Linked DNA regions of Homo sapiens: region 2 is linked to region 1. A link means that fine-mapping ties the variant in region 1 to the expression of a gene that starts in the linked region. Tissue or cell type: whole blood. Region 1 holds a variant in brackets; the other region holds the start of a gene. All regions are shown on one strand. Distances are between the middles of the regions.

Evidence for each region. PIP is the estimated chance that this variant, and not a neighbour inherited with it, causes the effect.
Region 2: it holds the start of PTGR2, and the variant in region 1 is fine-mapped to the expression of PTGR2 in whole blood (TOPMed, PIP above 0.99).

The regions. Positions count from the first base shown.
Region 1 is chr14:73,910,900-73,919,420 of GRCh38, reverse strand. All of the region lies in intron 8 of ZNF410 (zinc finger protein 410), which reads right to left. Among named protein-coding and RNA genes, the nearest start is that of ZNF410, 28 kb to the right of the region's middle. The variant G/A (reference allele first, on the strand shown) is at 4,245.
Region 2 is chr14:73,849,024-73,854,023 of GRCh38, reverse strand. It overlaps PTGR2 (prostaglandin reductase 2), which reads right to left and starts at 2,193. Exons shown (of 10, transcript NM_001146154.2): 1 at 2,081-2,193. RefSeq lists an enhancer at 2,398-2,447 and a silencer at 2,057-2,459.

The sequences.
Region 1 (8,521 bases):
TATCAGGTACTATGTTCACTGCTTGGTCAACAGGGTCATTAGTAGCCCAAACTTCAGCATCTTGGAATATACCCTTGTAACAAACCTGCACATGTACCCCCTGAATCTAAAATAAATTTATTTTAGCCAGGTGCAGTGGTTCACACATGTAATCCCAGCACTTTGGGAGGCCGAGGCGGGCAGATTACTTGAGGTCAGGAGATCAAGACCAGCCCGGCCAACATAGTGAAACCGCATCTCTACAAAAATTAGCTAGGCGTGGTGGCGGGCGCATATAATCCCAGCTGCTTGGGAGGTTGAGGCAGGAGAATTGCTTGAACCCAGGAGGTGGAAGTTGCAGTGAGCCAAGATCATGCCACTGCACTCTAGCCTGAGCCAGAGTGAGACTCTGTCAAAAAAAAAAAAAAAAAAAAAAAAAAAAAAGGCCGGGCACGGTGGCTTACTCCTGTAATCCAGGCACTTTGGGAGGCTGAGGCGGGAGGATCACGAGGTCAGGAGATCAAGACCATCCTGGCTAACACGGTGAAACCCCATCTCTACTAAAAATACAAAAAGGTAGCCGGGCGTGGTGGCGGGCGCCTGTAGTCCCAGCTACTCGGTACGCTGAGGCAGAAGAATGGCGTGAACCGAGGAGGCAGAGCTTGCAGTGAGCCGACATCACGCCACTGCACTCCAGCCTGGGAGACAGCAAGACTCCGTTTAGGGGAAAAAAAAAAAAAAAAAAAAAAAAAAAAGGCCATATGAAATGTCCAGAACAGGCAAATCCAGACACAGAAAGCAGATTAATGGTTGCCAGGGGCTGGAGAAAGAGAGACATGGTCAATGATACTAATAATGGGACTTCTTTTTCTTTTTTTAATCATCTCCTGGATATGGGGATCCTTTTTGGGATGATGAAATGTTGTGGAGTCGGACAGTAGAGAAAACTGTAAAACTATGAATATATAGTTGGCCATCCACATCCATTGATTCAACCAAGCAGATAAAAAATATTCAGAAAAAATAAAAATAAAAAATAACAGGCCAGGCGCAGTGGCTCATGCCTGTAATCCTAGTACTTTGGGAGGCCAAGGCAGGTAGATCACTTGAGGTCAGGAGTTCCAAGACCTGGCCAACATGGTGAAACCCTGTCTCTACTAAAAATATAAAAATTAGCCAGGCACATGCCTGTAATCTCAGCTACTTGGGAGGCTGAGGCAGGAGCATCACTTGAACCCAGGAGGTGGAAGTTTCATTGAGCCAAGATCGTGGACCACTGCACTCCAGCCTGGGCAACAGAGCGAGACTCCATCTAAAAAAATAAATAAATAAAAAATAACAATATAGCAATAAAAAATACAAATAACCAATATAGCATAACTATTCACATAGCATTTACGTTGTATTAGGTACTATCAGTAATCTAGAGATGATTTAAAGCATATGGGAGGATATGTGTAGGTTATATGCAAATACCATGCCATTTTATGTAAGAGACTTGAGTATTTGTGGATTTTGGTATCTGTGGGGTCCTGGAACCTATACACCACAGATAACAAGGGATAATTATATTACTACTAAAAATCACTTAGTTGCACCCTTTTCTTCTTTTTATATTTTAGATGGAGTCTCACTCTGTCACCCAGGCTGGAGTGCAGTGGCATGATCTCGGTTCACTGCAACCTCCCCCTCCCAGGTTCAAGTGATTCTTGCACCTCAGCCTCCTGAGTAGTTGGGATTACAGGCACATGCCACCACACCCAGCTAATTTTTGTATTTTTAGTAGAGATGGGGTTTCACCATGTTGGCCAGGCTGGTTTTGAACTCCTGACCTCAGGTGATCCACCCACCTCGGCCTCCCAAAATGCTGGGATTACAGGCATGAGTCACCATGCCCGGCCGGACTGCACACTTTTTTGAGATGAATCTTATGGTATGTGAACTATATCTCAACTTAAATAACCTGCATTTGCTTGTATATGCAAAAAGAACCACTGGAAAAGTAAACCAAATAGGAAATAAAAAGTGTTTATACCTATAAGAGAAGGAGGGAGGGAACATGGTAAAGAGACACACCTATAATCAAGGCTTTTTGAAAAAGAAACTGAAGCAAATCTACATATCAAGCTGGTGATATATTAAAACAATGATTTAAAGGGTATTTAAACATAGTATTATTCTAAGAACCACAGCTCCAAAAGTCTTAAACTTCATTCTGTAGACAAATTGATAATATTGGTATTATCATTTTGAAACAATATTGTATTAATGTTATGAACCAAGATTTTCGATGTAAGAAAAAAATAAAGTACAAAAAAATCCCCTGAAAATTGTTTAATGTGAAAATTTAAATTGGAATTATCAACATGAACCAATTATTTTCTTTTCAAAAATATGTCTTTAGTTCTTTCCACCGAAAAGTTCTAGAAACAGTAACAACCTTTTTATTTATTTATTTTTTTGAGACGCAGTCTCGCTCTGTTTCCCAGGCTGGAGTGCAGTGGTGCATCTCGGCTCACTGCAGCCTCCACCTCCTGGGTTCGAGAGATCCTCATGCCTCAGCCTTTCAAGTAGCTGGGATTACAGGTGTATGCCACCACACCCAGCTAATTTTTGTATTTTTTTTTTTTTGTAGAAACGGGGCTTCACTGTGTTGCCCAGGCTAGTCTCGAACTCGTGGGCTAAAGTGATCTGCTCGCCTCAGCCTCCCAAAGTGCCAAGATTACAGGCATAAACCACTGCGCCCTGCCAACGATGACAACCTAACAGCAACGGGCACATGGCACCCAGACTGTGGTTCCAACTATAAGGAACCAGGACTCCATGGAGGAATAGCTGATTCCAAGTCCAAGGTAAGCCTGGGAACTGTTGTTGTGTTAGAAAGCAGAGAGGCTATAACAAGACAAATGGGTCATGTCAAAAGCATAAATACAGCATGAGAAGCTCCAAAAATAACAACCAGGCCAGGCACGGTGGCTCGTACCTATAATCCCAGTACTTTGGGAAGCCAAGGCAAGTGAATCACTGGAGGCCAAGAGTTCAAGACCAGCCTAACAAGGCAAAACCCCATCTCTACTAAAAAATATGCAAACATTAACAAGACATTGGTGGTGGACGCCTGTAGTGCCAGCTGCTCAAGAAACTGTGGCATGAGAATCACTTGAACCAGGGAGGCCAGTATAATTACCCTCATAGAAAAGCTAAAGATATCACAAGAAAACATTACAGACCAATATCGCTCATGAACATCCAGACTCCTTTTCCTCCTTCCTTTCCACTCTCCCGCCCTCCTTCTCTATCTCTCCCTTCCTCTCATCCTTCCTTCCTTCCCTCCCTCCCTCTCTCTTACTGATTTATTATTTTTTGTAGAGGACAGGTCTCCCTATGCTGCCCAGGCTGGTCCAGAACTCCTAGGCCCAAGCAATCCTCCTGCCTTGGCCTCCCAAAGTGCTGAGATTACAGGCATGAGCCACCACATCCAGCCAGCTGTAAAAATTCTTAACAAATTATGACAAAACCAAGTCTAGCACCACATAAATAGGACTATACACCCTGACCAAATGGGATTTACCCTAGAAACACAAAGTTGGTTTTACATCCAAAAACCAACTACTAGCAGTAAAATTAGTAGCATACAGTACAAAAACAAGATCATCTCAACAGACACACGAAGGTGTTTGACAAGATCCAATACCCATTCATAATAAAAATTCTCAACATACTAGGAAGAGAAGGTAAATTCCTTCATCTGATAAAGGGCATCTATGAAAAAACTACAGCTAACATCAAATTTAATCATGAAAGGCCAGGTGCAGTGGCTCACACCTGTAATCCCAGCACTTTGGGAGGCTGAGGCAGGTGGATCATTTCAGGTCAGAAGTTCGGAACCAGCCTGACCAACATGGTGAAACCCCATCTCTACTAAAAAAAACAAAAATTAGCCAGGCATGGTGGCGAGCGCCTATAATCCCCACTACTCGGAAGGCTGAGGCAGGAGAATCGCTTGAACTCAGGAGGCAGAGGTTGCAGTGAGCCAAGATCACACCACTGCACTCCAGCCTGGGCAACAGAGTAAGACTTTGTCTTAAAAAAAAAAAATTAATCATGAAAGAATACATGCTTTTCCCCTAAGACTGGGAAAAAGACAAGGATACGTACTCTCACCACTTTTTTTTTTTTTGAGACAGATTCTCGCTCTATCACCCAGGCTAGAGTGCAGTGGCGCGATCTCGACTCACTGCAACCTCCACCTCCTGGGTTTAAGC[G/A]ATTCTCATGCCTCAGCCACCTGAATAGCTGGGATTACAGTCATGAGCTACCACACCTGGATAATTTTGTATTTTTAGTAGAGATGGGGTTTCACCACGTTGGCCAGGCTGGTCTAGAACTCCTGGCCTCAGGTGATCTGCCTGACTCGGCCTCCCAAAGTGCTGGGATTGCAGGTGTGAGCCACTGCGCCCGGCCTCACCACTTCTATTCAACATTGTACTCAAGGTTCTAGCCAGAAAAAGAAAGTAGGCCGGGCACTGTGGCTCATGCCTGTAATCTCAGCACTTTGGGAGGCCAAGGCAGGTGGATTACCTGAGATCAGGAGTTCAAGACCAGCCTGGCCAACATGCTGAAACACTGTCTCTACTAAAAATACAAAATTATCCGGGTATGGTGGCTCACGCGTGTAATCCCAGCTTCTCAGGAGGCTGAGGCAATAGAATCTCTTGAACCCGGGAGGCAGAGGCTGCAGTGAGCCCAGATTACGCCATTGCACTCCAGCCTGGGTGACAGTGGGAGACTCAGTCTCCAAAAAAAAAAAAAAAAAAAGGAAATTAAGGCCAGGTGCAGTGGCTCATGCCTGTCATCCCGACATTGGAAGGCTGAGACAGGAAGACTGCTTGATCCCAGGAGTGTGAAACCAGCCTGGGCAATATGGCAAGACCCTGTCTCTATAACAATTTTTTGAAAAAACTAGCTGGGGGCCAGGCACGGTGGCTCATGCCTGTAATCCCAGCACTTTGGGAGGCCAAGGCGGGCAGATCACTTGAGGTCAGGAGTTCAAGACTAGCCTGGCCAACATGGTGAAAACCCGTCCCTACCAAAAATACAAAAATTAGCTGGGTGTGGTGGTGTATGCCTGTAATCCCAGCTACTTGGGAGGCTGAGCCAGGAGAATCACTTGAACCTGGGAGGTGGAGGTTGCAGTGAGCTGAGATTGCGCCACTGTATTCCAGCCTGGGCAACACAGCGAGACTCAAAAAAAAAGCTGGGCATGTGCCTGTAGTCCCAGCCTCGGGAGACTGATGTGGAAGGACTGCCCAAGCCCAGGTCAAGGCTGCAGTGAACCATGATCATGCCACTGCACTCCAACCTGAGCAACAGAGGGAGACCATGTCTCAAAAAAAAGCAAGAAAGAAAGGAAATTAAAGGCATCTAGCTTGGAAAGGCAGAAGCAAAACTATCTTTACTCTCAGATGACATGATCTTTTATGTAGAAAACACTAAGAAATCTATTTTTTAAAAACTACTAAAACTCAGCCAAGTGTGGTGGCTCATGCCTGTAATCCCAACAACATTTTGGGAGGCCAAGGTGGGAATACCACTTGAGGCCAGGAGTTCAGGACGAGCCCAGGCAACACAAAGACTCCATTTCTACAAAATAATAGAAATTAGCTAGATGTGGTGGTGTGAGCCTGTAGTCCTATTGCAGGAAACTGAGGACTGGAGAGACTGATACGGAGAACAGGAGGATTGTTTATTTTAGGTACGCACCAGCTCAGTGGATTCACATCCAAAAAGCTGAGCATTAAACAAAGACGGAGTGGGGTTTTTGTAAGCGGACTTACAAAAGTAAAACAAAAGCAGTTAATCATGACAGGTCACATACTTTATAGCATAGCATAACTTGTGGCCTTGCATAGCTGGTGACCTTATAGCTGCATTGAAAGAAAAATAAGAACTGGCTAAATACAGACATTTGCAAAACACAGTTATGCTTAAGAAGCCAGGGAAAGGAGTAACAGTAAAGGAATTTGTCTTTCCTTTTTTTTTCCTTCAACCTTGCTCTGGAAGAGGGGGTGTCTGGAGTCCATTCCTTTGGCCTTGGCTTCTCAAACAGCGTTATCTTATAACTGTCCTTGAAGTGAGCTTGCTAGGCAGAGGAAAACTTGTTCTTTTCTTTTTAACCCTTGCCTTGCCTGTTACTTTTCTTGGAGTGAATGAATGCATATTTATTTTTAAATTTCTGCCTCAGTCCCAGCTACTGGGGAGGCTGAGGTGGGAAGATCACTTGTTCCCAGGAGTTCAAAGGCTTCAGTGAGCTATGATGGTGCCACTGCACTCTAGCCTGGGCAATAGAGTGAGACTTTGTCTCTAAAAAAATAAACAGAAAAGAAAAAAAAAAATGGGGTGTAGGAGGAGGGGGAGAACATCAGGATGAATAGCTAATGGATGCTGGGCTTAATATCTAGGTGATGGGATGATCTGTGCAGTAAACCACCATGGGACACCTTTACCTAGGTAACAAACCTGCACATCCTACACATGTACCCCTGAACTAAAAAGCTGGAAGAAAAAAAAAAAAGAAACTACTAAAACTCAAGCATTTACCAAGGTTGCAAGATCAATGTACAAAATTCAATTGTATTTCTATATACTACCAATGAACAACTCAAAAATAAAATCAAGAAAACATTTCATTTGAAATAGCATCAAACATGAAATACTAGAAGTAACTAGAGCATCAATTCCTTATTCTCAAAATTCACAATTAAAAGAATTACATATTTATCCTGTCTTGCCTATGCAAATGATCAAATAGCCCTACTTGATATTAGTGGAAGAGTCCAACTAAAGAGTCGCACAGTACAGAAGAATTCCAACTAATGTGAAAGGAGTAAAGGAATAAGAAAAACCACCATTTTACAATCCTTTATGAAATAAGAGATTCAGGTATCATTTAGGAATGAAATCAAAAGGTGAAAGGTTGGCTGGGTGTGGTGGCACGTGCCTGTAATCCCAGCACTTCGGGAGGCCAAGGCAGGCAGAGCACTTGAGGTCAGGAGTTCAAGACCAGCCTGGCCACATGGTGAAACCGTCTCTAGTAAAAATACAAAAATTAGTCGGGCGTGGTGGCACGCGCCTGTAATACCAGCTACTCGGGTGGCTGAGACGGGAGAATTGCTTGAACCCAGGAGGCGGAGGCTGCAGTGAGCCAAGATCACGCCACTGCACTCTCGCCTGGACAACAGAGTAATACTGTCTCAAAAAAAAAAAAAAAAAAAAGAAAGTGAAAGGTTCATAGGGAACCTTATAATACAGGGATCAGGCCAGCTGAACCCATGGATCAATTTTGACAACCAAGCACTGTGAGCTTCCTGATGTGACACAAAACGAAGCACACAGAACCATCTCTGACATATTCTTGCCCAAAACTTCCAAACTTTGAAGCTTTTAGAGCTTACTTACATTTATAGGAAACGTAGAGAAACAAGTTAAATGACATAAATGGAAGCAAACCAATATATCCAGAATGTGGGCTATTCTATAGGAGTCAACTGACTCTGTTTTGCAACAACTCTATGAAAAAAACAAACAAACAACAACAACAACAACAACTCAATGTAGAAAGATCTAGATTTTTAAAGACTTAATAACCAAATATAATATTGGATCTTGTTGGATCCTGATTTAAACAAACCAACTTTAAAAGACATTTTCGAAACAAGTAGAAAAAACTGAACATGGATTGGTTATAAGATAAAACCAAGGAAATATTAATTTTGACAGGTATAACACCACTGTTGCTATATAAAAAAAAATTTCTCTACTTTGGTGAATCTTTCACATAATCTGACACAGTAAAGTAAAATAAAAACGCTCTACAATCCAAGCAAAACACATCTGAAGTCCACATCTAGCCTACAGGATACCAGTTTGCCACCTCTGCTTAGAACTTGTCATCATATTAAAAAACTGCTCTACTTCTAAGATCTCAACTCTGAAATGTACATCCCTGATTGTTTATAACTCTCCAACTTCCTTGCTCCTGCTGCAGTAGCTTGCTTTCCTCATAAGTAACTTTCCAGTTCCTCCTCTCCACTTGTCATGTTCTGGCTTCCCCTTGTTTCCCACGGCCAGTCATTCAACAATGACCTGATTCCATTCTAGAATCCCTCTCCTCCTTGAGTTCATCTCTTCCTCAGCAAGCCTCTGCTCTGATTAACCTCCATCACCTATTTTCTCCAGTACCCAGCTTTTAAACTGTTAAGCAGTAGCAGAGAAAAGTAATAAAATCTGAACAGGTCTACTAAAAAAAGTTATGCTACTTACTCTCAGCTATGTCCTCATTCACTGTTACTTAGCAATCCTTTTATTCATTCTAATTGGTTCAATCAACAAATTCTAAAAAGCTGTTGTGTGCCAGGAATTTTCTCACCTCCAACAAACTTACAAGGCTAGTCTACAGAGCCCCTCTAGCACTCATCATCCAACATTTTTCTAACCCCTCTTATAAATATGTGAGTCAGCCTGACAACTGGAAAGCCCCCTTTCC
Region 2 (5,000 bases), 64 kb after region 1:
CTGAAAGAAGGGTAGATTGTTAAATTCATCCCAAGTAGGGGAAAAAAACTCAGCAAATCCTATTTGCCTGGGATACTATTCCTACTTGGTGCTAATATTCCAAAATAATAACAGACGAATTTGCTCCGATGTGATGATAGAGTGTGTTGAGTGTTTACCTTGCAGCCTGGTAAAAGGGAAAGGTCATTTAAGTAGGAAGAACAGAGTACTTCTCCTAGTTCTAACCAGGTGGGAACTTGGAAAAAGTCCCTTCTCTCAACCTGTTTCCTTAATATTCCTAAATGCCAGGAACTGAGCACAGACTCATTCACTAGCCTGTTTAAACCACCTCCCCCACCCTCACCCCAAAAAAACTGTGAGGTTGGTAATATCATCCTCTCAATTTTATAGATGAGAAAAGGGGCCGGGTATGGTGGCTCAGGCCTGTAATCCCAGCACTTTGGGAAGCTGAGGTGGGCAGATCACTTGAGGTCAGGAGTTTGAGACCAGCTCCGACAAAACGGCGAAACCCCACCTCTACTAAAAATACAAAAATCAGCCCGGCGTGGTGGCGGGCGCCTGTAATCCCAGCTACTCTGGAGGCTGAGGCTGGGGAATCGCTTTAAACCGGGAGGTGGAGGTTGCAGTGAGCCGAGATCACGCCATTGCACTCCAGCATGGGCGACAAGAGCGAAACTCCATCTCAAAAAAAAAGAAAAAAGAGAAGAAAAAAGAGGTACAGAAAGAGAATAATTCGCCCAGAGTCGCCCAACTTGTAATAACGCTAGAACCCATACTCCAACACGGCACCTGCTATTTCCATCACATGAGCTTCCTAATACCTTTTAATACCCTTATTTCGTGCGATTATTCTGCCACTAGCAACCCTGTTGACCACGCCTTGTTATAAAACGTATCTTTCTGGGCCCAGAGCCGTGGCTCACACCTGTAATTCCAGCACTTTGGGAGGCTGAGGTGGGAGGCTCACTTGAGGCCAGGAATTCGAGACCAGTCTGGCCAACATGGGAAAACCCCGCTCTACTAAAAATACAAAAATTAAGCGTGGTGGTGGGCGCCTATAGTCCCAGCTACACAGGAGGCTGAAGCTGGAGAACTGCCTGAACCCAGGAGACTGAGGCTGCAGTGAGCCGAGATCCAGCCAGGACACTCCAGCCTGGGCAACAGAGCGAGACTTTGTCTCAAAAAACAAACAAACAAACCACGTGTCTTTCTGGATCTCTCTGCCAGTCTTCTCCTCCCCTTCCGGTTTTCTGGTCTCCCCCTTCCCCTCCCGAAGTCTTGCATGTGGAGATTCCTATCTTGCTCTTCCCTTTCTCAGTGACCTCCCTGAGCCCTGTGGCTCCTCCTACCAACCACTTTATATGGAAATTAATAATAATTTGCGTCTCTAGCCCAGAATTTCAAACTAACTGCCCAGCTCGTCAGCGCTAAGAGGATAAGGACTCGTCTGCTTTGTTCAATGATGTGAATCCAGGCCGGGCGCGATGGCTCACGCCTGTAATCCCAGCACTCTGAGAGGCCGAGGCAGGCAGATCACGAGGTCAGGAGATCAAGACCATCCTGGCTAACACGGTGAAATCTCGTCTCTACCAAAAATACAAAAAATTATCCGGGCGCAGTAGTAATCCCAGCTACTCGGGAGGCTGAGGCAGGAGAATCGCTTGAACCCGAGAGATGGAGGCTGCAGTGAGCCGAGATCGCGCCACTGCACTCCAACCTGGGCGACAGACAGAGCGAGACTCCGTCACACACACAAAAAAATGTGAGTCCAATCCCCTATGCCCGGCGCATGGTACGTGCTCAACAAATCTGTGTTAAATGAAAGTTTCAGAGGCACCTCAAACACAATTACGTCAAAACCTCAGGTTGCTTTCCCCCAGTAATTCAAAAAAAACCCCAAAACCTGCTTCTGTTTCTCGAGCATTCCCTATCTCAGTGTTGCGGGCAATAACGCCAGTGTCCCCGGTAGCTCCGGGAGGACGCCTAGAAGTCACCCTGGTTGAGAGTCTTCTTCCTCACCGCTGGGGCCCGAAGCAGCTTCGGGAGCCACAGTCGCGGGAGCCGCTCGCGCGTCACTGACCCTGTGGAGCCCGGGTGAACGAAATCTCGCGTGATTTGCCGGAAAGAGGCTGTACTGCACGACCCCAGCTCGCCCCCAGGCCTCGGCCCTCTGACCGCAGTACGCAGGCGCGCGACTAGGCCCGGCTCCGCGCCCCCTCCCCTCCCAGGGGCGGGGTTTGGAAGCTTAGGGATTGGAAGTTTAGGATTCCTGGGCGCCCCACGTTTCCGGGAGAAGCAAGGGAAATGCGGAACGTCAGGGGAGAGTTACTAGTCTGGGCAAAGTGCATTAATAACTTAACTGAGATTGGTTCCTTGTGGCCGCCCCTACTGCCTTGACCCAAAGAGCAAATCTTGCAGCCTTGACCAGTGAGTTCACATTTAGCAGTCCGTGAAGAAGTTTTATTAGTTTTGTGGATTTCTCCCTGAACCTCGATTGGGAAATTATAGTGAGACAGGGACCGTCAAGCCTACTCCTTGTTTTATAGATGGGGAAACTGAGTCTCGGAGAGCTGATGTGATTGGACCACCTACCTTTCAGCTGGTTAGGGGCAGTGCTGGGATAAAACCCCTCTCTCCGGACCCTAATCCAGGGCCCCTTTGCGCCTCTTTTATTTCACGAAGAATACCAAATTCCTCCAAGATTACCAGTGTGGGCTGATTTCTCAATTTCATTCATCGTTAGTCGTCTCCTTTTGTGCTGGACTGGGTTGAGAGAAGTGTATACCTAGGACAGCTTCGGATCCCCAGGGACTTCAAACCCTAAGAAAGATCATCTGAATTAGGCAGGTATAAGAATTGCTTGTATTCATGTGGGAGCTAATAGCTCAGCACAAGTCATGCATGGAGTAGCTGAAAGATGACTAGGTTGGTGAGCAAGGGAATAGTGATCAAACAGGTTGGAGTTCCTGGTAGCTTTATGTCTGAATATTTTTGCTTCTTTGGGAAAGCTTCAGGAAGGACTAGGAGAATTACACTACTTTGCAAACATTTTCAGACAGGAGCTAATCTCTTTTATCTGTCATGGACAGGTAGACAGACCTTCAATGCCTTTTGTAATGACTTAAACCAAATGATGAAAAATAAAATGCTCAAATAGACAAAAAGTAGTAGTATAAAATAAAGGTAATCTAGAACTTGATTTAAAAGAAACACTTTCAAAATAGAAAAGAAGCCCTGCAATATTAAATTAGTTTTGGGGCTGGACGCAGTGGCTCACGCCTGTAATCTCAGACCTTTGGGAGGCAGAGGCAGGTGGATTGCTTGAGTCAGGAGTTCGAGACCAGCCTGGGCAACGTGGTGAAACCGCATTTCTTCAAAAAATAAAAAATAAAATGAAATTAGCTAGGTGTGGTGGTGCTTGCTGGTAGTCTCTCAGCTGCTCAGTAGGCTGCAGCGAGCCTTGATCACACCACTGCACTCCAGCCTGGGTGACAGACTGATACCTTGTCTCAAAAATTTTAAATATATGTATGTGTATTAATTAGTTTTAGCTCTCTTGATTCTAGGGTCTGTGAACTCCTTGTAACAAGTGTGATTTTTCTCGCCAAAATGAGTTCCCAAAAATTCAAGAGATGAGTAGAGGATTTATAGGTACATTTCTATCCAGTTTATCCTCTTCTTCTAAATTTTCTCTAACACCAAGGATTACTATCATTTACATAATGCGTAGTTTGAGTTGGATAATGCCTTATATGATTTTTTGCCTACATGATTTAATTTTCAAAACAGCCCTATTATTATTATTACCATTTTACGAATGAGGAAACCGAAGTTAAGCTAGTTAAGTTCTAAGTCAGGTTAAGTAACTAATAAGTAAAGGAGCAAGTTATCCTGCCTGAGTCCAAGCACCTGACCCTTTGTTATATTTGCCATAAATCTGGAATTCCCTACTCCTCCCTCTTTGCAGAACTTTGTACTGCCTCCTTCTCATCGTTCAAGCAATTCCTGAGAATCATTTTCTTTTTTTTCTTTTTTCTTTTCTTTTTTTTTTTTTTTTTTTTTGAGACGGAGTCTCTCTCTGTCGCCCAGGCTGGAGTGCAGTGGCACGATCTCGGCCTACTGCAACCTCTGCCTCCCGGGTTCAAGCAATTGAGCCTACTGAGTAGCTGGAACTACAGGTGCATGCCACCACACCCAGCTAATTTTTGTATTTTTAGTAGAAATGGGGTTTCATCATGTCGGCCAGGCTGGTCTCAAACTCCTGACCTCAGGTGATCCACCTGCCTTGGCCTCCCAAAGTGCTGGGATTAAAGGCATGAGCCACCACGCCCAGCCCTGAGAATCATTTTCTAGACTTCACTAGAAGGAAGTGTCAATTCTTCTCATCTCCATCTTATCAAAAAAAAATACATAGTATATATTGTTTCATTCAAGCATGATAAATATAGGCCAGGTGCAGTGGCTCACACTCATAATTCCAGCACTTAGGGAGGCGAGACAGGAGGATCACTTGAGGCCAGAAGTTTCAGACCAGCCTGGGCAACATAGGAGACCCCTATCTCTACAAAAAACAAACAACAACCAAAAAAAAAAACAAAAAGAAAAAAAATAGCCAGGTGTGGTGGCACACACCTGCAGTCCCAGCAGCTACTCATGAGGCTGAGGCAGGAGGATCGCTTAAACCCAGGAATTCCAAGTTGCAGCTAGCTATGATCTCATCACTACATTCCACCCTAGGTGCCAGAGTAAGACTTTGTCTCAAAAAAAGAAAAAAAAAAAAAAAAAAAGCCAGGCACTGTGGCTCAAACCTGTAATCCCAGAACTTTGGTAGGCCAAGAGGTAGGAAGATCGATTGAGCCCAGGAGTTCAACACCAGCCTAGGCAACATGGCAAAACCCACCTCTACAAAAAATTTTAAAAATTAGCCTGGTGTGATGTGTGTGCCTGTTGTCTCAGCTGCTTGACAGACTGAGGTGTGAGGATCACTTGAGCCCAGGAGG